Linked DNA regions of Homo sapiens: regions 2, 3 and 4 are each linked to region 1. Evidence: fine-mapped QTL for protein levels in blood plasma. Region 1 holds a variant in brackets. A gene starts in each other region. All regions are shown on their reverse strands. Region 1 holds the start of LOC124903019 (a long non-coding RNA gene). Region 2 holds the start of LY9 (lymphocyte antigen 9). Region 3 holds the start of ADA2 (adenosine deaminase 2). Region 4 holds the start of CD5 (CD5 molecule).

Evidence for each region. PIP is the posterior inclusion probability: the model's chance that the variant is causal. The UK Biobank Pharma Proteomics Project read protein levels with antibody pairs (Olink). The fine-mapping took linkage between variants from a reference panel, not from the people measured, so its PIPs are less certain.
Region 2: LY9 starts here. The variant in region 1 is fine-mapped to the plasma level of the LY9 protein (UK Biobank, PIP 0.93).
Region 3: ADA2 starts here. The variant in region 1 is fine-mapped to the plasma level of the ADA2 protein (UK Biobank, PIP 0.91).
Region 4: CD5 starts here. The variant in region 1 is fine-mapped to the plasma level of the CD5 protein (UK Biobank, PIP 0.95).

What each region holds. Positions count from the first base shown.
Region 1 is chr12:111,441,855-111,447,617 of GRCh38, reverse strand. It overlaps SH2B3 (SH2B adaptor protein 3), which reads right to left. Exons shown (of 8, transcript NM_005475.3): 3 at 764-865; 4 at 585-676; 5 at 399-493; 6 at 74-288. It overlaps LOC124903019 (a long non-coding RNA gene), which reads left to right and starts at 2,873. Exons shown (of 2, transcript XR_007063462.1): 1 at 2,873-5,763. RefSeq lists enhancers at 2,214-2,483, 3,234-3,353 and a silencer at 4,789-4,975. The variant A/G (reference allele first, on the strand shown) is at 814.
Region 2 is chr1:160,793,150-160,798,912 of GRCh38, reverse strand. It overlaps LY9 (lymphocyte antigen 9), which reads right to left and starts at 2,739. Exons shown (of 10, transcript NM_002348.4): 1 at 2,602-2,739. The coding sequence starts at 2,725.
Region 3 is chr22:17,216,636-17,222,398 of GRCh38, reverse strand. ADA2 (adenosine deaminase 2) reads left to right here and starts at 2,964. Exons shown (of 10, transcript NM_001282225.2): 1 at 2,964-3,043. RefSeq lists enhancers at 3,177-3,306, 3,317-3,386, 3,227-3,587.
Region 4 is chr11:61,099,534-61,105,296 of GRCh38, reverse strand. CD5 (CD5 molecule) reads right to left here and starts at 2,808. Exons shown (of 11, transcript NM_014207.4): 1 at 2,682-2,808. The coding sequence starts at 2,736.

The DNA of each region.
Region 1 (5,763 bases):
TAGGACCCTGAACTCCAGTGGAGAGGGGTGGCACGGTCCTGCCTGCCCCACCCCACCCCACCCCACCCCATACCTTGGCTATCCCCTGAAAGTTGAAAGTGAGCACGTATTCCCCACGCCGCGTCTCGCTCTGCCGCACCAGGAACACTCCATGAGCATCAGGGCCCTGCAGCTGAACCAGCTGAGCTGCTTTCACTCTGGAGATGGGGCCGTGGAACCAGGGGTAGCAGGACAGGAAATGGTCCGTCTTCTGGCAGGCCGGGTCCAGCAGCCCCCCAGGAGAAGCACCTGTTAGATAAGATGGGTGATGGTGGTCGCAGGGGGCTACCTTATGTCCTGGGCTGAGTCTGGGTTCCAGCGTACCCAGAAGACAATGGCCTAGCTATTGGTTTACCCACCTTGGTTAAGGGAATCTGTGCTGCCCCTTGGGGAGCTGGACGTGCTAGGCTCTAGGGCTGAGGGAATATGCATCTCTGCTTCTGTGCTCTCCAGCCTGCTGGAGAAGAGGCTGAGGTTAAGGATCTGGGCAGGTCAGGGGTGGTAGCAGCAAAGGTGGTGCCAGGGACGAGGGCCCAGGACCTCACCCTCGGCCTGTGCACTCCGAGAGCTCAGCCATCCATGAATTCAGCTGCTGCTCGTCTCCCACCTCAAAGATGATGTCTGTCCGGTCCTTCACCTGGCAGGGAGGAAGGGAACAGGGTTGGGTCTGCTGTATGTGTATGTATTTGTATTGCCCCAGGGTGTGAAAAGCCTTGTCACTCACCTTCAGCACAAAGGTGTAAAGGTTGTCAGGCATCTCAAGCCGTGTGCACC[A/G]CCGGACCTCCTGGATGCTGGAGCAAGCTGCTTGTAGCTTGGGCCTTGAACTCTACGAGACCAAGTTGGGGTACTCAAGGCTTGTTCCTGATGCTCTTTCTTCCAGCCAGGCCTGAGTTTGTCTATAGTCTCCCCAGGAGTCCCCCTTTTAGAGAGAGTATCCATGGTGTTGCTGGGCAGGCTCTGAGCCTGTAGTGAGGTCCAGGGTGCCTTCCCCTAGCCTCCTGAACACCATTCACACTGAGATCCCAAGAAGCATGTGCTGGCAGAAGGCCAGCCCTCCCAGCCCATTGGACCTGGACTTGGAGACATTCCCACTCTGCCATGTGTCTGACATCCGTTTCTCTTCCCACTGGTGAGCAAACAGCTCCCTGCCCAGCCAGGTGATAGCAGCTGCTGACGGTCTCATCACACCAAGCCCAAAGGGGCAGAGCCTAGCATGGCTAGCCTAAGTTATAGCCACTGTAAAACCACAAAATCTTGGCCCTGGACCTTCCCAGGACACCCGGCACATAGGGCTGCAGGGTGGATAGGAGTTAGCCACTGTTCCTTTGCCAGCAGGAAACCTGCTCCCAGGTCTCAACTGACCCTGCAGATGCTTCCTGTGCTGGGGCACTCTGCAGCCAAGGAGCCAGCTGCTTCCGGTTGGGAATCTGCTCAGGAGGGGGTTTGCCCCTCCCCTTCCTCTTGTGATAAGACTGAAAAGATGGCCGAAAGAAGAAAAGGGGAGAAAGAGATGAGATAAGGAATGGACAGAAGTGGCCCCACTGGGCCCCCTCCATTCAGGTGTTCCTGGAAAATACTACAACCCCTAACAAACTGGGAGCAGGGGGATGGAAAGCAGAGGCAGCCCAAAGGATGTTCTAGCAACTGTGGCTTCAGGTGATCTGACCTCCACCTCAGCCCAAAAGGGCATACCTTGGACTGGAGCTGCTAGTGCTGTTGAATTGACCCCCAAAACCAGATGCTTAACCTTGCTTTACACACAGAGCTGCCAGGTACCTCTGTCGGAAGGATCATGACCCAGTGGCCTGGCCACCTCCTTTATCCCCCTTCCCCACCTGCAGGAGAGTCAATGAACAGTGAGGTAAGAGGGCAGCCTGGCAGGAGCAGGATGGCCACCTGGGCCCTTCCAGCAGGTCTCCTGGGAGCTCCCGGGCCTGCTCTGGTTGGCGGACACAACAGGCTGGGGGAGAGTAATGACTGCAGGAATGACCAACACTGGCCACAGCTCACTGCGGCCTCTCACTAGAAAGCTGCATGACTAGAAAATTCCAGCCTGAAGTGACCAGCACCAGCCAGGGCATTTTCACCTCCTACTCCCAGAGGTCCAGCAGCCAGGATGAGGCAGGCAGAGTGAGGCCTCACATGGCATCCACACGGGCACTGGACACAGCGCAGTGTGCAGGGAGTGGGGCCTCTGCGCTCTTGCCCATTTTTACAGCCAGCCAGCCCTGCAGAGCCTTCATTTCCTGTCTGCAAGATGGGTAAGGTGCGAGTGGCCACTTCCTTCTGCTACTTTTCCAGTTGGCCCTGCCTGGCCCCCACCCTTCCCCCTAGCTGCAGGCCTTAAGGATCACTGGGAGGATATAGGCCAGGCCTGGAGGGGAACGGGCCTAGTCTCCCTTTCAGTTCCGCTCCAGGCCTAGTCCCCAGTGTCAGTGCTGAGATTAACCAGCAGAGCTGCCGGTTTCACTCTGACTCTGGCCCCTGCAAGCCAGCTCCACCCCCAGCAGCTGAAGAACTGCTGAGCAGGCAGGCAGTGGTGAAAAGAGGATTCCCCTCCTCACCCACAGCCAGCCTGGCTGCCACCTGCCTGCTGGCTGAGCACAACCCAGGGGTTCTTCCCCAACTCCCCACAGCAGCCCTTGAGAGCCGCCCAGGCCTAGAGCCACAATCTCAACCCAAGCCTGCCAAGTATCAGAGCCGGGGTCCGCCACAGCTACCTGGTGGTATGGGTGTCCTATGCCAGAGGCTCCAGCCAGGTTGCAGCGTGTGGGCACATGGGCGCAGGACAACCCCTGCTTCAGTCGAAACCTCAGCCTGGACAGCTCAGGCTCTGGCCACTGCAGGGAAGGACCACCAGATGCCCATCAGATTAAGCTATATGGGGGGATGGGTGAGAGGGGAGACAAGCTCAAACCTGGGGGCTGTGTCAGCAGCTGTGGGGGCTTTAGGTTCCCTCCTCTCACATGCCCGCTATTCCACCTCCCTCAAAAGTCAAGCCAGGCCAGCAACAGCTGCTCCCTGGACCTGCTTAGGCTCTACTGTGGTTGGGTGATCAAAGTGGCCAGATCATTTCAGGTATTTGTGGTTTGAACAGTAGACTGTCACCCACCACATCCTGCAGCGTCTATTTCTGGGGAGCAAGTCTTCTCCATTCCCAGCATCTAAACAGATGGCTTCTGTTTGTTATGGCCACTGTGGCTCCAGTGGGAATAATCTATTTCTTTCTTTGCTCTGGCTGCTAGGAATCTCAAAGTCAAAGACGTAGGCCAGCTCTGACACTACCCCAACGGTAGGACTTGTATTTATTTCAACAGCTAACTTTATCCCAGATGTTATAGTTCTTTTATCCTCTAGGGTTTTTTGTTTTTGTTTTTGTTTTTTGAGACAGATTCTCACTCTGTTGCCCATGCTGGAGTGCAGTGGCGCAATCTCGGCTCACTGCAACCTCCACCTCCTGAGTTCAAGCGATTCTCCTGCCTCAGCTTCCGCAGTAGCTGGGATTACAGGCACCTGCCACCACACCCAGCTAATTTTTGTATTTTTAGTAGAGCTGGGGTTTCACCATGTTGGTTGGCCAGGTTGGTCTCGAACTTCTGACATCAGGTGATCCGCCTGCCTTGGCCTCCCAAAGTGCTGGGATTTTAGGCATGAGCCACCACGCCGGGCCCTACCCTCTAGGTTTTAAGATTCAGCCCTGACCCTGCCACTTCCTATACAACCCTGGACAAAGGGTTCGGCTCTCCATGCCTTAGTTGTCATCTGTAATTCAGCTCATTTTTTCACAAGGTGAGCTAACACAAGCGAAAGGCATGACTCGCACAGCTGTTAACAGGCCGGTGAGTAAAGCCTGCTTGGCTCCCACTACACTACTGACAGCATGACAGTCCCCTCTGAGTAGCCTAGCCACTGGGTACACCCCCAGCTTCTCTCAGCCTTACAGAACTATTGCCCCATTTTGTCACATGCTCCCTTACCATCCTGCAATAAATTCCACGTAATATAACCAACATACTACCCTAACTAATTACAAGACAGGGACAACAAAGGACTGTCACTTAGCCGAAATAAAACGTGCTTCAGTGCAACTGTAGACAACACAACCAACTACTTGGCTGCTTCTGAGTTTGTTGTGAAAAGAAGGCTAAGAACATAAGGGAGCCAAAGGGCGGGGGAGCTAGGAAAGCCAGCCTGGTTCCAGATCCACCCAGGGTCCACATGGAAATGCAGTTCCAGGCTCCCTTCAAATGGCCCTGTGCTGTGATCAGTCCCCCTGCAAAGGTCTCTGAGCCACAGTCCCGTCATCTGAGAAGTGAAGATGAAACACCAGCCTCGTGGGGTCACGCAGCTCTCCCTGACTCCCGCCTACCTGAGGATCCCTCTTTATCCCACCTGGCTGTTCAGCCCGCCTGGAGGGAATGTGACGGGCTGGAGGCAACAGACCCTTCCTCTCTAGGCCTCACTTGCCCTCATGCTGTTACCTGGAAACTGTCTTGCTACCTACTGCCCCTTCTGTGTGCTGAGGGACAGGGGACCTGTCTTGGCACAAACATTTATAGGGCCAGGATGGTCCTTCTAGAGTCTTCCGAGGTACTGGGCCACACCCCACCCTGCCAGGTCCTCATAACCAGCTTGAGTGGGGTCTGTTACTGGCTTTGCCCTCAGGCATCCAGCAGAGACAGGCAAGTCGGGGCAGGGCAGGGCTGGACACACCAGTCAAAGGCCAGAGCTCTGGTGGCGTGACCACACCTACGTGGAGAGCAAGGCTGATGGCATGGCCTCCCCTGGTGAGAGAGCAGGAAGAGGCACAGGTGAGCCTGCCACAGCAGCCCCCAGAAGCCACCATGGGGCTTCAAGGCTGTGGGAATCAGCTTGAGCTTTTTCTAAGGTGGGGAAGCTCTTAACAGGAGCAGGCCTGCTGGCTGTCCCCCTCCTCCTGGGACGCTGGAGGGCAGGACACAGGGCAGCATCTGACACACCCCAGCAGCAAGGGCTTGGCCCAGACCAGCCTTGGGGAGAGACCGCCCACCCCCGGGAACCCCCAGGCCACACTAGCTCCCTGGTGGTCTTACCTTCCCCAGAGCCTTTGAGCCCACATTCATCGGTGTACAGCAGCAGTGGGACAGGCCTCAGTCGACCCTCCAGCACCAGCCACGCCTCTGCCACACCTATGCCCTCAAGGAGGCATCTGGCAGCCTGGGCCTAGCTCTGCAGGTGGTTAGAAGAGCCCTAGCTCTACCACTTACTTACCTTTGAAACCTTGGGCAGGACACTAACTGGAGGTTCAGTTTGCTTTCAGTAATAGGGGGCCCGTAAGCAGGTCCTGTTGACCTTCTTACTGGAGGAGGAGAGGGAGGGGGTCTGAAAAGGCGCAGAGCAAATTCCAGATCCTGTCCTGGATGGCTGATCCCTCACCCCAGCCCAGAACCTGAAGTGGATGCTGCCGGGATGGATGAATGAGCATTATTATGGAAAATACTTAATCCAAGCTTACTGTCTAGTATCAAAAAGTTAACCTACTTGGGAAGCTGAGGCAGGAGAATCACTTGAACCTGGGAGACAGAGGTTGCAGTGAGCTGAGATCACACCACTGTACTCTAGACTGGTCGACAGAGTGAGACCCTGTCTTAAAAAAAAAAAAATTCCTTGCCTTCTTCCAAAAATGATTTTAGTCAGGTTAGAGACACCCAGAAAGAGCTGGGAGACAGCTGCTACAACACAGAC
Region 2 (5,763 bases), not on the chromosome of region 1:
ATTCCAGGGCTTCCGAGGCTCTGGAGAGCACTTTTGAAATTCTAGACCAAAACAGATGGGTTTGGGACCCAGACTCCACCAGGAATTCTGGGTGGGAAAATAAGTAGAAAATGTTAGAGACAAAAAAGGAGCATAAGCATAGCCTGGAGGGGCGGAAGAAAGCTGAAGCAAGCTCTGAAAACCCAGAGGATACAGAATATGCAGACACTGGAAGGAGAGAGGCTGCTTGGTGCAGGTCATGGGGGTTCTCTGCTTAGACCTCCATCAGCCAAGCACTTGCACCTTGTGGAGAGGCAGCTATGGAGCATGCAGGGCTAGGGATCCTGGACATGAGAAGGTTGGGTCAGGTGGATTCTTTAGGCAGATTCAGGCTGAGTTGATGTGAGGTTGGTTTGAGGTTTTCTAAAAGAGAGCTCTTCCCATCTGGAAGAGACTGCTTACGATTGCTATGTGTGCATTAGGTACTTTATGTAAATTATCTCATTTAATTCTCATAACTATACTATAATTAGCCCCTTTTTACAGATGAGGAGCTGAAATTTAGAGAATTTAATCCACTTCCCTGAGATTACAGGGTTGATCAGTCACAGAGTCCAGATCCTATGTCCATGATGCCCCTGGAGTAGGGAGGCCAGGAGTACTGCCCATCTGTATCCTGGAAGCCCAGGAGCTGCTGGGTCTTGACTGGGTGCATATGACTCGTTTTGACTTCAAATTTTCTTACATCAGACAAAAACCATAAACAAAAGCCTCACAGACTCTCAGTGGAGGGGGCAGGATGTGGGCCTCACAGGGCAAATCTTGTTGCAGAAGACAGTGCAATGCAGCTCCCAGTACAATGACAGGTCCCCAGTACCAGTCATTTTATTTTGAATTGCACCGTAGGACAAATAATAAAAGAGCATTCAAAGATTGCAAAACTGAATTTGACTCACCTGTCTCTTAATAGTTTCCAAAGAATGCACGTAACAGTAATTATAATAATAACAATCATAGCTTCTGCCAACTATGTGCCACTATACGTGTGTGTGTGTGTGTGTGTGTGTGTGTATAGATCATCTACAATCTGTAAGAGTGTTGCATGATGCATCCTACTAACTATATTTTACACTTAAGAAATAGAGGCCCTCATCACTAATAAATGATGGAGCAATGATTTAATTTCAGATGTTCCTGATACTAAAGTGAGAGGGGTCTTTTCACTCGACTGCCTTTTAAGTTCCTGAAATGACTCTTTGGAGATACAAAAGCATCATCCTTTCAGACCAAAAGAGTGAGATTTGAGGTCATCCTAATCAGTGGAGCCAGACCAATGGAGATGCCTCTTTGCTCTGAACTGTTTGAAATTCACTGCATTGATCATTTGCGGCTTGGATGACCTTGAATGTAGCTTATTTCAGGTTTGCTCAACACAATCAAGGAACACCCCAAAGGTTGGAGGTAAACATAAACAGCCTTGCTGCTTTCTGTGTGTTTTGATGAGCCAAGATAAAATTGAAAGTGAAAAGAGGTCAGACTGGACCTCAGCTCTGAGGTCTAGGCTCCTCGTTCACCCATATCTGCATCTAGGAGTGTTTCTAAAGCTCCCTTCAGGCACCAACTGCCAACCCCCACTGCTCTCAGATCTCTAGTGCTACCTGCACCATCATCCCTGAAGCCCTGGAGAAAGCGGGAGCACAGAAGGACAGTAGCTGCCACAGTCCCAGGTGGCTGAGATCCTCTCTGGGGTACTGGATTGGCTCTATCTGCTGGACAGTGGGGTTCCGGGCCATGCAGCGGAGAGATGTTTCCCAGGAGTTGGGCCTTGATAGGGAGGAATAAGGTTGAGGAGAAAAGGATATCCAGATAAACGCCACCTTGCCCATGGTCACCTAACCGCGTCCAGGTCCCCAGTGAAACCTCAGTAATAAAGCCAGCATATATGATAACCAAGGCAGGATACATAGAAAGAAGCTCCAGAAGTTCTCTCCATCCCTAGGAAATTGCTAGGTGGCTTCTCATCAGGGGATTTTCCTGGATCCCTCTGTGGGTTTTATCCACACCATACAGGGAACAAACTCATTATATACTTGGCATTTCTTAGGAAAATGTGAGGGCAAGAGAAATGTAGTTTGAGCCCAGAGCTATTTGAGACCGGGGCTAGAATGTTACCCCCTTCATAGTGCACGAATATGCACACATGCAAAGTAATTTCTGGCAAGGAGATGAGTTTCCCGATTTTACCAACAAGAACTGGGCTCACGCCTGTAATCCCAGCACTTCAGGTGGCTGAGCTGGGCAGATCACGAGGTCAAGAGATCGAGACCACCGTGGCCAACATAGTGAAACCCTGCCCCTACTAAAAATACAAAGATTAGCTGGGTGTGTTGGCATGCACCTGTAATCCCAGCTACTCAAGAGGCTGAGGTAGGAGAATCGCTTGAACCCAGGAGGTGGAGGTTGCAGTGAGCCGAGATTGCGCCACTTCACTCCAGCCTGGCAACAGAGTGAGACTCCGTTAAAAAAAACAAAAAACAAAAAAAAGAATCTCCCAGGCAGGGAATGCAACTGGCCTCAGAAGAACCGCAGTAGCAAGAAGTGGTGGCCATAAAGTGGACTTACCCATGAGCAGGAAGAGGAGAGAGGTCTGTAGAACAGAAGAGAATATTTGCAGCTGACTCCTCTGTGGCTTACTGGAGAAAGGCCCAGGAGCCCAGTCATCTGTGTGACTCTTTGGTGCCACCATGATGATCTATTTTCAGAACTGAGACTGAAGGAGGATGCACTTACCACAGCTTCCGCACGTGTCACAGCTTCTGCATGTGTATATGAGTGTGTGTGTGCATGTGTATGTGTATGTGTGTGTGTCTCAGAGGGAGGGTTGTTTATACAAAACACCACAGACTCCTCCCATCTGCGCAGGCAGGTAGAGGTCCCAAGTCTATTCAGGGCCTCATTTGTGACTGATGTGGAGCATCACTTGCTTTGACATCAAGGGACTTGGGTTCTAAATTTGGCTCCTAAAGGTGACTGCTAAAGATCTGTACCTCCTGGCATTCATGCCTCTGTGTAATCACCTCTTCTTTAGTGTGGCCTGGATTTAGTGACTTGCTTCAAGTGAATAGAATGTGGCAGAGATGTGGGATGGGTCACTTCTGAGATTAGGTTACAAAAAAGCTGTGACTTCCATCTTGGGTTAGCATGTGTGTGCATATGCGCTCTCTCTTTCTCTTGCCCTCTCTCCCTCTCTGTCTTTCCCACTATCTCTGTCTCCCTACCTTACACTGAGGGGAGCCAGGTATTGTTTTGTGAGATACTTTAGGGAGAGGGTTCCAAAACAAAGAACAGAGGGAGGCCCCCAGCCAACAATCGGCGAGGAGCTGATTCCTCTGGCCAACTGTCCATGAGGACTGAGGCTAGCCAAGAATCACATGAGTGAGACTGGAAGTGGATCCTCCCCAGGAGGTCCTTGAAATGACTGCAGCCCTGGCTGACACCGTGATGTTAGTTGTGTGAGTACCTTAAGCCAGAGGCACCCAGCTAAGCCATGCCCAGATTCCTTATCAAGAGAAACTGTGAGATAATAAATGTTTGGTTTTTAAATTTTTTTTCAATTTTTTATTTTTCATCAAAAATGCTTATTGTTTTTAGCTGTGAAGTTTGGGGCAATTTGTTACACAGCAACAGATAACTAATACAGTGACCCAATACATTTTCTATTTTGCTCAAGGCAGTTTGTGCTAGCTTTCTGTCACATGCAATGAAGGACTTTTAATATGGACAAAGGCATCAGGGAGACTGCAATGGGGGTGGACATCGTATGTGACAGCGTAGAGGTGACTGAGTTGAAAAGGTAGGCTGGAGAATGGCATGATTCCCTATATCCTGACTTGGGAAACTGTCTTTTTCTCCTCCTTCTTCTTGTCAGTAGCGTAATAGCTGGCCATGCTATGGTTTGTGTTTCGGGCTTCAGGTCATTTGTTTACTTAGGCTGTAACATTAAGGGGACTTGGCAGGAAAACTTGAGGCTGGCAGAATGTGTAGTTTTAGCTAATATTCGATGAAAGCTTACAGAGTGCTAGTCCATCTTCTGACACTTTAACATATTCACTCATTTGATCTTACAATAGTTTTATGAGATATCTTTTATCATCCCCATTCTATAAATGAGAAAACTGAGGTGGAGAGGGGTTAAATAGCTTACTATAAGTTTTATAGTTAGTAAGGACTTGAACCCAGGAAGTCTGGGTTCAAAGGAAGAAGGGAGAGAGAGAGAGAAACCATTAAGATAACAGGCTTATGTCCATGGAAAGCATCTTTAGAGGCTGGTCATGATCTGATGTTGCACAATATTGAAAGTGACAGAATCTCGAAAATCTTTAAATTTTGTGCACTAGGAGCGTGTCTTGTTTCACTCTAGCCTTGGTCCTGTGACTAGAACATGGGCTGTCTAGAGGGGATTGCAGGACATACGGTCAGGAGAGGTTACCAGAGCCCAGATAAAGCATCCTGTTACCAAGCTAAAGGCAACAAGAATCCAGTAGGAGTAGGAAGCTTCCTGGAGCTGCAGAGTGGAGGGAGAATGGGTGGAAGGGATGAGCCTGGGGATGAGAAGACAGGTGCGGAAGCTATTGAAGGAGTCTGGGTACAGAACATGAGAGCAGGAACAGTCTGCATGGGAGGCGAGGGCAAAGGCAGAAGGGAATTCAGAGAGATTGGTAATAATAAAAATCATTACTAACATTTATTGGGTAATTACTATGAGTGAGCCTCTGTGTTTAGAACTTTACATATGTTTTCTCCTTTAATCCTAAGATAGACCCTATTTGGATGATACTCCAATTATCCCCATTTTAGAGATGAGAAAACTGAGATTTAGGAAAGTAACATCACTGAAATGACCTCCTTTGAAGTTGTGACCATAGGAGGACACAGCCTTATAATACACAAAATCCAATTTAAGTATTATCATTTAAGTATAGTAAAACCTAAATTAATATAAATTTTGGTATGATGCATTTGTTAAGTGTGCCCTGTCCTCACATGGGGAGGGCTAATATTCTCATCAGGACAGGGAGGCAAAGGCACTAGCATTGGGAATCAGGGAGCAACATCCAGTGATGCTGGCCCCGGCGTCTCCAGTGTTGTCCTTCTCAGTATACTTCAACCACCCCAGCAAGTGGGTGTGACTGACTGGAAAATTTTTGAAATCCCTGCTACTGTCCTTGGAGTCCCGCCAGCTACAGGCCCAGAATCACCCCTGTCAACTGGGCATTGCCTCCAGGTAGCATCAGACTCCAGCCTGGGTTGAGATTTGGGTCTGGCAGCCACAACCACATACTCAGCTGTGTTGCTTCACCACCAGCCCCCAACCAACACTTCATTCACTGTGCAATTAAGACGACCCTGCATTTTACACAATTGCATTTTTTGGACTTTATTTCTAATGTTGTCTTGACTTGCAGTATATATATGCTACTACAGATTGGAAGAATATGAAAGACTGTAGAATTTTGACAAGCTCAAAGCTTTTTACACTTAGATGGAAAGACAAATATATGTTAGGAGCTAAAGAAATTCAACATCAAATCAACTGCTGCAGCCACAGTAGAGGGAAGAATTAGGGAATGTCACAGTGTTCAAGTGGAATCTAGGGATATAGGCTATGAGACCAGCCTTTTAGAGGGTAGCAACAAAACAAGCAAAAAGTGGTGCTGCCAGCTGGGCACATTGGCTCACGCCTGTAATCTCAGCACTTTGGGAGGCCGAGGTGGGCAGATCACG
Region 3 (5,763 bases), not on the chromosome of region 1:
CTTATTTACCTCATATAACAATCATATATGCAGCACTTTAAACCACTGGTAACTCTGCTATACTCTGTTATAGGTTGTGCATAGCATATAATTCATGATATTGGTGTGAAGAAAGGGATGTTTTAATGAAAATACCTCTCAAATGTTTGTGTAGCCATAGATGATCTTTAATTCTGAAAACCTCTCCTGTCTCCAATTCTGAGGTCATAATCCACCTGTCTCTTCAGGCATCTTTCTGTTGAGGTTTAGTTTTGCAGTCACTAAAAGATGCCTTTGTCCTGTTTTTCTGCCCTGCAGATTTTCAGGTTCTGAACACAAGCCCAGTTTCTGCTTCTGATGATCATTTTCAATAGAGCATAAAAAACAGAGCCATGTTCCACGTTTTTACGGCCTCTGCACTTGGCAAAATATTCTTCCCGAATGGCCTCACGTGTGCTCCCTATCATCACGCCTTTTCAGCTAGGCAACGCTCAGAGTCACACCTGAGTGGAGGCCGACGCCCCTTTGGAGGCGACTCCAGCCATAAAAAGTCCTGCTTGGAGCTGGTTTTAGCCACAGAGGGCCAATAAATGGCCCCTTCTGAATGAGGTGCCCCTGCACCTCTGCAGAGCCTGCTGCCAGCCTCCAGGATCTAACTGGGCTCTGATTCACCGCTCCCAACCCCACATCCAGGTAAGTGTGCCCAGCTCTTGTCTCTGCTTCCACCTCAAGATCTGAGTCTCCACTCCCCAGAACCCGGCAGGTTCTGCCTGACAAGGACCTGCAGTCCTCTGCCAGCTGCCACACCCTTGCCAAGGTGTGACTTGGAGTCCTGGAGCCACCTTCGGAGATGTGAAAATTAGCTCCTACTTTTAGCTAAAGCGTTTGGAAAGAAAAGCTTGATCTTTAGCTTTGACCTGGTCTTTAAAAAAACCCTTCAAGGGGAACATCACACACCAGGGCCTGTCGGGGGGGTCGGGGCTGGGGGAGGGATAGCATTAGGAGAAATACCTAATGTAAATGATGTGTTGATGGGTGCAGCAAACCAACATGGCACAGGTATACCTATGTATCAAACCTGCACATTGTGCACATGTACCCTAGAACTTAAAGTATAAAAAAAACCCACAAAAAACCCTTCACATGATTTACTTTCAGAATTGGTGGTTTCCCTTTGTGCGGCGCTGGAATCAATCTTGTTTCTCCTTATTACTTGCGGTGCATTCTGCTTCCTCTAACTTTCAAAAAATTAGTGTTAAACTCTTTTTTTTTTTTTTGAGACAAAATCTCACTCTGTCATCCAGACTGGAGTGCAATGGTGCAATCTCAGCTCACTGCAACCTCCACCTCCAGGGTTCAAGCAATTCTCCTGCCTCAGCCTCCCAAGTAGCTGGGATTACAGGTGCGCACCACCACACCTAATTTTTGTATTTTAGTAGGGGCTGGTCTCGAACCCCTTCCATTGTGATCCACCTGCCTCGGCCTCCCAAAGTGCTGGGATTACAGGCATGCACCACTGAGCCCAGCCTAGTCTTGAACTCTTGATGAGGGAATCCCTGACCCCTCTGTGTTTTCACTTTGGGATTTCTTCCTGTTTATTAAATGAATGACCTTGGTACTTTTTGGAGAAAATGACAAAAAGGAGCATCAAGGCTCCAGATGTATGGGAGCTGCAGAACTGAAACTGCCGTGGGCTTTTGGGGGTAGATTTGGGGTCTTGGGGGTAGATTTGAGTGGGACTGGGGAGGAGTGGGGTGCAATCGAGTCTTTAGACCATGCATGTGACATGGAGGTCCCTGGTGTAGCCTCCCATGTCTGCATTTCTAATTGGCTTGGATGAGGCATCCCAATAGTTACTTCTAAGAATAGTCATGGCTAATATTTATCAAGAGCTTTCTATGTGGCAGGTACTTTGCATGTGTTTTTCCTTTAATTCTGACAATGGACCCTCTGTGGTGGGTGCTTTTATTATCCACATTTTCAGATGAGGAAACTGAAGTATAGAGAGTTGAAACAACTTGGTCGAGGCCCCACTGCTACAGTGCTAAGGCCAGCTACAAAGCGAGGTCTGACTCTGACCGTCCTGGGTACAGGAGCCTTGTCTGCTCCACTTGTCCCTTGGAGCGTTGTTCTTGCTGGTCCTCTTCACACCCCAGCTCTTGTCTCCTACCTCCTGCCCCCTCTACTGTCCTGTCCCCGCATCCCTGATTTCCCCCCTAAAACATATATTTTATTATAGCTACTTTTTACTCTCTGTCTAATGGGTTGCCCCACAGTCCACAATCACATTTTGAGGAAGGAGAACTTCCCAGAGTTCATGAACAGATTTTGGAGTGCCTCTTTGCGGTGCTTGTTTCCAAAACCAACATGCTGTGGACCTTTCAAAGACACAGTACACACAAACACACACACACCCTCCCTCCAACACAAATAAACCCACATGCGGCCGGGCATGGTGGCTCACGCCTGTAATTCCAGCACTTTGGGAGGCCGAGGTGGGCGGATCACCTGAGGTCAGGAGTTCGAGAGCAGCCTGACCAACATGGTGAAACCCCATTTCTACTAAAAATACAAAAAATCAGTGGGGCATGGTGGCGCACGCCTGCAATCCCAGCTACTCGGGAGGCTGAGGCAGGAGAACTGCTTGAACCCGGGAGGCGGAGGCTGCAGTGAGCTGAGATTGCGCCATTGCACTCCAGCTTGGGCAACAAGAGTGAAACTCTGTCTACAAAAAAAAAAAAAAAAAAAAAAAAACAAACCCCACATGCACATAAACCGAAACACACACGAACACACAAACACCCACATGAACATGCGCACAAGCCCCCCACATCAAACTCAGATGCACACAGCAAGCATGCATGTAAGCCACACACTTGCCACTCTGGCTGCCTCAGCACTGCAGAGCCCCTCTCCCCGGCCTCTAGTTGGATCCCTGGTGCACACTGGAGGGAAATAAAACCTACCCCAACAGGAAGTGAAACAGTTGGTGAGCTTTTCCGGTGCTCTGCACAGATGCTGGGGCGCTGAGCAAACAGCCCTCAGTTTCTGGAGCTGTTCCGAGGTAACTGGGGTCCTTTGGGAGCTGTGGGATGATGAGGTTCAGGAGGTAGCTGGGAAGTCCGGAGCTTGGGCTTGATCCACCTGCACCTCTCCCTGTCTCCATCTGAGCTGGGTCTGAGACTCTCAGTGGAGGAGTAACAGGCTTTCTCCCAACAGGCTTTTGAAAATGGGCCCAAGGGCATTTACTCAGGACCACAGATGCATGTGGCCTACTCCACTGTCACCAGGCTGGAGTGTGGTGGCACGATCTCGGCTCTCTGCAACTTCTGCCTCTCGAGTTCAAGCCATTCTTGTGCCTCAGCCTCCCTAATAGCTGTGATTACAGGCACCCACCACCACGCCCGGCTAATTTTTGTATTTTTAGTAGAGACGGGGTTTCACCGTGTTGGCCAGGCTGGTCTTGAACGACTGACGTCAGGTGATCTGCCTGCCTCGGCCTTCCAAAGGGCTGGGATCACAGGCAGAGCCACCACACCCAGCCTCCTTTCTTCTTAGTCTGGAAGCAAACTACTTTATGAAGTTTTCATGCATCCTCTTTTAAAAGTAAAAGGAAAATCTTGTGGAGGAGAGAAGATGAAGTAGATATAGCAATAAATTGTGAATAAGGATTGTTTTTACTAGTATTCAACCAGGCAGGTCTTGACCACCATTAGATAAACTTCTGTCTGGCAGCCTGGAAAAGTTCACAGTTGCTGGGACACAAATGCTTTTGGGGTCCTTCTTGGAGAGGATGGAGTTGAAGATTTGGGAGCTTGATGGCCTTTGTTATGTGTCACCAGGGAGACAGGGACAAGGGGCGGGGCTGTTGATGGAGAATGTGGCATGGGGTAGGTGGGATGGTGACATAGAAGTCACCGTGCTCCTGCCCTAGAGATTTTAGTAGCAGGCAAACACCGTGGTCAAAAAAGAGAGTCAAGGACTTAATGAAGTTAAAGGGGTTCTGCTGACGTCCAGCACTCTGATTTTGGGGGTACAGCTTCTGCCATAACTGCATATTGCTGATACTAGTTCCTTCTTAAAATTTTCTTTGCTATCTGATGTACTACAGAATAACTGAGCTGGGAAGAATCTTGGATATTAAAATGATTTAATGAGTAGCAAACTTTCCATTTTTGTCATATCCTTGCACCTCTATTTACTTAATATTTTTCTTTAACTTAAAAATTTTTCAACAAAAACAATAATAGTTACGATATCATGGGTTTGATGTGCTAATACATGTTTTAAAATTACCTATCTGTCAACATAACCCCTATCCATTTGTGAGCCACCTAAGATTGTATTTATGCCACTGATGATATTCATGCTGCACTTGGAAAACCACTGATCTTGTCCAAGTTACCTTTTTTGTAGGTGAGGACACTGAGATCTGGAGACGTTAGTGATTTGCCCAAGGTTGCACAGTTAGAATGATACTAATTTGAGGCTGTTCCTAAGGTCTCCTAATTTACAGTCTTGACATGTTCCAGTATGCTGTATCATACTTTCAAGTGTAGAGAAACAATCGTTTTATTTTCATTTTAAAAATTTTATTTACGTATTTATTTTTGAGACAGAGTCTTGCTCTGTCACCCAGGCTGGAGTGCAGTGGTGCAATCTAGGCTCACTGAAACCTCCGCCTCCCAGGTTCAAGAACTTCTCATGCCTCAGCCTCATGAATAGCTGGGACTACAGGTTCAATACACCACGCCTGGCTAATTTTTGTATTTTGGTTTTGCTATGTTGCCCAGGCTGGTATCGAACTCCTGGGCACCAGTGATCTGCCCACCTCAGCCTCCCAAAGTGCTGGGATTATAGGCATGAGCCACTGCCCCTTCTTAAATGTAATTCAAATAGATAACCCAGGTAAAGGAGCAGCATAGAGCCTTGTGTGAGGAGATGCTGAATACATTTCCTTCCTTCAGTCCCTGCTCGTTGCCACCCTGAACTGGCTGCTCTCTGCAAGTTTTGATAATCCTTTCTAATGCTAATGCTCTGAAATACCAAGATGCTGTACCTTGGTGTGGCCACAGAATGATTGACTGTGCTGTGCAAGGTACTCAATCTAAAGACTGTCAGTTCTGGGGCAATTTCTTGTATTCCTTATTGGCTTATTTCCTTCACCTGTTTTTTTTTTCTTTTTCCTTCTGAAATGTCTGTTATTTGGGTGTTGGATTTCTTCAACCAATAATCATCTCATTTTCTTTTCTCCTATTTTGCTTTACTTTTAAAAATATTTTCTTTAACTTCATTTTTAATATTGCTAGTAAATTTTTAAACATTCGGCTTTGCTGTTTTTAATTTCTGAAAGTTCTTTCTAATTCTCATTTTTTTAATCACCTCCTGTTCCTGTTTTACACACACAATGTTTTATGTCTTTAAGGATGTTAATTACAGTTCTTTCAGGTTTTTCTTTTATTTCCTGTGTTGCTTTGTTTCCTCTCAGTTCCTTATCTCTGTGTGTTTTGTTTTGGTTTCTTTCTCAGTTTGAAGCATGTCTTATGATCTTGTGCTCTGGTTATATTTGTTATTTATTTATTTATTTTAACTTTAATCCATTTTATTTGAGTCTCTCTCTCTATATATATGTGTGTGTGTGTGTGTGTTTTTTTTTTTTTTGAGGTGGAGTCTTGCTCTGTTGCCGGGCTGGAGTGCAGTGGCACGAACTCGGCTCACTGCAACCTCTGCCCTCTGGGTTCAAGCAAGTTTCCTGCCTCAGCCTCCCAAGTAGCTGGGATTACA
Region 4 (5,763 bases), not on the chromosome of region 1:
TCGCATCGGCTAGGCCAGTCAGGGACGTGCAGTTTGTGTTAGAGCCGCTTCCCCGCCTCACTGCCAGCAGCTGTCCAGGCAGGCTGGGGCTGAGAGGGGAGCAACTGTGGGAAGCCCTGGCCTGTCACTAGCACCCAGGCCTGCTGGGGGCATCTTCATGCCTCAGGATCCAAAGGTCCCCAAGCCCCGATGCCAGCCAGGAGGCTGTGGTGTCCCCAGGGCTCTGGCATTGCTGCCTCTCTCCTTGGAATGGCTCAAAGGGTGCCTGCACTGTTTGACTCCAGCAACCCTGGCCCTTGGTGTCCCCAGCTCTGGTGGCTGTATCTCTGCTGGTGGAGGTTGTGTCCCAGGGCCATTTTCCTGCACACGGAAGTGCCTTTGGTGGCCTTCCCTTTTAGCTAAGGGAGGGGCCTCTGTGAAGGCAGGAATGCTGGGCTGGGGTCAGCTCGGCTGTGCACCAGCTGCTGCACCCTGGGTTTGCACTCGGCCTTCCTGGGCCTCGCTTTTCCCCACTGTAAAATGGGGCCAATGGGCCCACCTACTTCATTGGCTGTTGTGAAGCTTGCAGCAGAAAATGGCTTTAAAAGTGCTTTGTAAACCGTTACCCACTGAACAAAGGGAATGCTTGGTACCCACCGGCTCACTCAGACACTGGGAACTGAGTATTCCTGGGGTTCAAGGAGGTCCCCATACTGGGGTGAAGGGGCTACCTCCAAGTCTTCCTGACTGTGGCCTGTGTTGGGCCAGGGGACTTGCCTGGTGCCATCAGGAGCCTCACCCATGATGGGATTCAGTTGGGAGGGCCCTAGAGCAGGACACGGGTTCCCATACTCAGCTGGGAGCCGCCCTATCTCAATGAAGTCTGAGGCCAGAGGTGAGGAGCAGGTGGGGGGTTTAAGGGCCTGGTCCCTCCTTAGCAGGGTCCCTGAAGCCAGCCAGAGGTCTGTCTCAGGCCTCTTACTTTGGGACAGAAGGCATTTTGTACCTGTTGTTGTTACATGTGAGAAGAACCATGTGAACATGTGTGCACAGGTGCCATTGTCACATGTGTTGGGGAGATAATCCTGCCTTTGGAGGCCGCATTGTGCTCATGAAAGCACACACACACAGTTCTCACACACATGCGCACAGACTCCCACACACAGACTCACACACAGACTCACACACAGACTCACACATTCCCCCCACACAGTACTCACACACATGCCCAGAGACTCACACACAGACTCACACACAGACTCACACATTCCCCCATACACAGTTCTCACACACATGAACACAGACTCACACACAGACTCACACGCACAGACTCACACTTTCCCCCCCACAAAATACTCACACACATGCCCAGAGACTCACACACAGAGTCACACATTCCCCCCCCACACACAGTACTCACACACATGCCCAGAGACTCACACACAGACTCACACACAGACTCACACATTCCCCCCCACACAGTACTCACACACATGCCCAGAGACTCACACACAGACTCACACATTCCCCCCCAGACAGTACTCACACACATGCCCAGAGACTCACACACAGACTCACACACAGACTCACACATTCCCCTACACACAGTACTCACACACATGCCCAGAGACTCACACACAGACTCACACACAGAGTCACACATTACCCCCCAACACAGTTCTCACACACGTACACACAGACTCACACAGACACACATAGACTCACACATTCCCCCACACACAGTTCTCACACACATGCACACAGACACACACACATGCATTCCCCCACACTCACACCTGCACACCCGGTTTCCCTAGAAGGCTGCTGAGGCTCCCTGCTCAGGCAGGCAAGGCCTCCGGACCCTCTCCCTGCCAGCCTGGAAGCTGCTCGCATCCTCCTGTTTCCAGCCCAGAGTCACGCACCTCTGTCACCCTGCCAGACCTTCTAAATCCTCAGGAAGTGGGTCAGGCCTCATCCAGTTCACACCCCCAACCCCCACATTTCATAAATGGGGAGATCAAGGCCTGGAGAGGCTTGGGGACCTATCCGAGGTCACACAGGGTTGGGCTTACAACCCAGGGCTGGAGTGAGAGCAGGCCCAGCGTGTACTCATCCCAGCCGGCCTGGCTGGGCCCCTCTGGGACTGACCCAGGACTGGGCATGAGAGGGCCTAGGACTTCCGCTATGAGTCCTTGACATTTGCTCAGACATCGTCCTCAGAGGCGGCTCCACCCTGCCTCGGCCCACTGTCTGTCCAGAGCATCATCAGAGCTGCCTCGGAGACGGCGAGTTTCCATGTCTCTGGAGGCGACCAAGTAAAGGCTGGGCTGTCAGTGGGGGACCTCGCAGAGGGAGGCCTGAATGCTCTGCTAAAATCCAACTCAGCCTAGGAATCAAGTTGTCTGGGCCCCATCAAATGCGGGTCCCCCCTGCAGTCTCTCTTGCACTGGAAGGGTAAAGCAGGGTTCTCAACAGCGCATGAGAGAGGCAAGGTTGTGCTCCTGGCGGGTGGGACATGCAGGACAGAGGGCCAAGCTGCGGCTTAGTGGGGGCAGGCAGGGATCCCAGTGGCCCCAAATCTCCACAACGCTCCAGAGGGCTGACATGTGGATCCCAGAGTCAGCCTTGGGTAAAACTGGGAACTCCTTCCTTGCACTGGAGCGAGCCCGGGTGTTCGCAGGACACCTGGGAGGGGTACTCACCCAGCATCCCCAGCAGGTACAAGGTGGCCAGCGGTTGCAGAGACCCCATGGGCATGGTTTCTGGCCTTCTCTTGCCTCAGCCTGGGCAGCTGGGCACCGCAGGTGAGGGTGTCTGGCCGGGTATCTCGCTCTCAGAGAGGGAGAGGGCGGGGTGGCGTGCTCAGGGAGGGGTGGGACGGGGAGCAGGCAGTGTGGGGCCTGCGTCACCCATGTTTGAAGTTGAACTGTCAACTTCCTCCTGGCAAAACCACCTGCCCCTGTTTGAATGGCAGCCCTGGCCTCTGCCAGCTTCCTGCCCAAGGTACCCAGGGCTGGGGCAGTGCTCTCGGCCACCCCCACACAGGACAAGGCCATGCATCCTGGAGGGACAGGGCTGCAGGGGGTGGGGACCCTGAGCGGGGGTTACGGAGGCTGAAGGCCTGGCTGCAGCTGAGGGCTGGGCTGAGGACAGGCGTCCCTGAGGCAGGGGTCTGGGTGGGGAGAGGCGGGAAATGGGCAGCATGATGCCAGTTCTTGTTGCAGACTCCAGTGAAAGCCAAAACCAAACCCTCCATTCCCCCTTTGTGAGGGATGAGGTTGGAAGTTTGAGCTGACTTTCCACAGGTGGTGTTTTGCTAGCAAGTACAAGAGATGGCTGCGCCATGAATGCTGGGCTTGTGCCAGTGTGTGTGTGTGTGTGTGTGTGTGTGTGTGTGTGTGTGTGTAGAGAGAGAGAGATCTCCATGTTGACTTGTGTGATCTCTGTGTTGTGTGTGTCATCTCTGTGTTGTGTGATCTCCATGTTGAGGTGTATGTGTGAGCTCCATGTTGAGTGTGTGTGATCTCCATGTTGATGTGTGTGTGAACTCCATGTTGATGTGTGTGTAATCTCCATGTTGACGTGTGTGATTTCTGTGTTGTGTGTGATCTCCATGTTGATGTGTGTGATTGTGATCGCCATGTTGATGTGTGTGTGATCTCCATGTTGATGTGTGTGTGTGATCTCCATGTTGATATGTGTGTGTGATTTCCATGTTGTGTGTTTGTGATTTCCATGTTGATGTGTGTGTATGATCTCCATGTTGACTTGTGTGATCTCTGTGTTGTGTGTGTGATCTCCATGTTGGGGTTGATGTGTGTGTAATCCCCATTTGATATATGTGTGTGTGATCTCCATGTTTGTGTGTGTGAATGTGATCTCCATGTTGATGTGTGTGAATGTGATCTCCATGTTGACGTGTGTGTGTGATCTCCATGTTGATGTGTGTGTGTGATCTCCATGTTGATGTGTGTGAATGTGATCTCCATGTTGATGTGTGTGTAATCTCCATGTTGATGTGTGTGTGTGATCTCCATGTTGATGTGTGTTTGTGATCTCCATGTTGATGTGTGTGAATGTGATCTCCATGTTGATGTGTGTGTGATCTCCATGTTGATGTGTGTGTGTGATCTCCATGTGGATGAGTGTGTGATCTCCATGTTGATGTGTGTGTAATCTCCATGTTGATGTGTGTGTGTGATCTCCATGTTGTGTGTGTGTGATCTCCATGTTGATGTGTGCGAATGTGATCTCCATGTTGATGTGTGTGTAATCTCCATGTTGATGTGTGTGTGTGATCTCCATGTTGATGTGTGTGTGTGATCTCCATGTTGATGTGTGTGAATGTGATCTCCATGTTGATGTGTGTGTAATCTCCATGTTGATGTGTGTGTGTGATCTCCATGTTGATGTGTGTGTGATCTCCATGTTGATGTGTGTGTGATCTCCATGTTGATGTGTGTGAATGTGATCTCCATGTTGATGTGTGTGTAATCTCCATGTTGATGTGTGTGTGTGATCTCCATGTTGATGTGTGTTTGTGATCTCCATGTTGATGTGTGTGAATGTGATCTCCATGTTGATGTGTGTGTGTGATCTCCATGTTGATGTGTGTTTGTGATCTCCATGTTGATGTGTGTGAATGTGATCTCCATGTTGATGTGTGTGTAATCTCCATGTTGATGTGTGTGTGTGATCTCCATGTTGTGTGTGTGATCTCCATGTTGATGTGTGTGTGATCTCCATGTTGATGTGTGTGTGTGATCTCCATGTTTATGTGTGTGAATGTGATCTCCATGTTGATATGTGTGAATGTGATCTCCATGTTGTGTGTGTAATCTCCATGTTGATGTGTGTGTGTAATCTCCATGTTGTGTGTGTGTGATCTCCATGTTGATGTGTGTGAATGTGATCTCCATGTTGATGTGTGTGTGTGATCTCCATGTTGATGTGTGTGAGTGATCTCCATGTTGATGTGTGTGTGTGATCTCCATGTCGTGTGTGTGTGATCTCCATGTTGATGTATGTGTGATCTCCATGTTGATGTGTGTGTGATCTCCATGTTGATGTGTGTGTGTGATCTCCATGTTGTGTGTGTGTGATCTCCATGTTGATGTGTGTGTGATCTCCATGTTGATGTGTGTGTGTAATCTCCATGTTGTGTGTGTGTGATCTCCATGTTGATGTGTGTGAATGTGATCTCCATGTTGATGTGTGTGTGATCTCCATGTTGATGTGTGTGAGTGATCTCCATGTTGATGTGTGTGTGTGATCTCCATGTCGTGTGTGTGTGATCTCCATGTTGATGTGTGTGTGTGATCTCCATGTTGATGTGTGTGAATGTGATCTCCATGTTGACGAGTGTGTGTGATCTCCATGTTGATGTGTGTGTGATCTCCATGTTGATGTGTGTGTGATCTCCATGTTGATGTGTGTGTATGATCTCCATGTTGACATGTGTGATCTCTGTGCTGTGTGTGTGATCTCCATGTTGGGGTTGATGTGTGTGTAATCCCCATTTGATATATGTGTGTGTGATCTCCATGTTTGTGTTGTGAATGTGATCTCCATGTAGATGTGTGTGAATGTGATCTCCATGTTGATGTGTGTGTAATCTCCATGTTGATGTGTGAATTTGATCTCCATGTTGATGTGTGTTTGTGATCTCCATGTTGATGTGTGTGAATGTGATCTCCATGTTGATGTGTGTGAATGTGATCTCCATGTTGATATGTGTGAATCTCCATGTTGATGTGTGTGTGTGATCTCCATGTTGATGTGTGC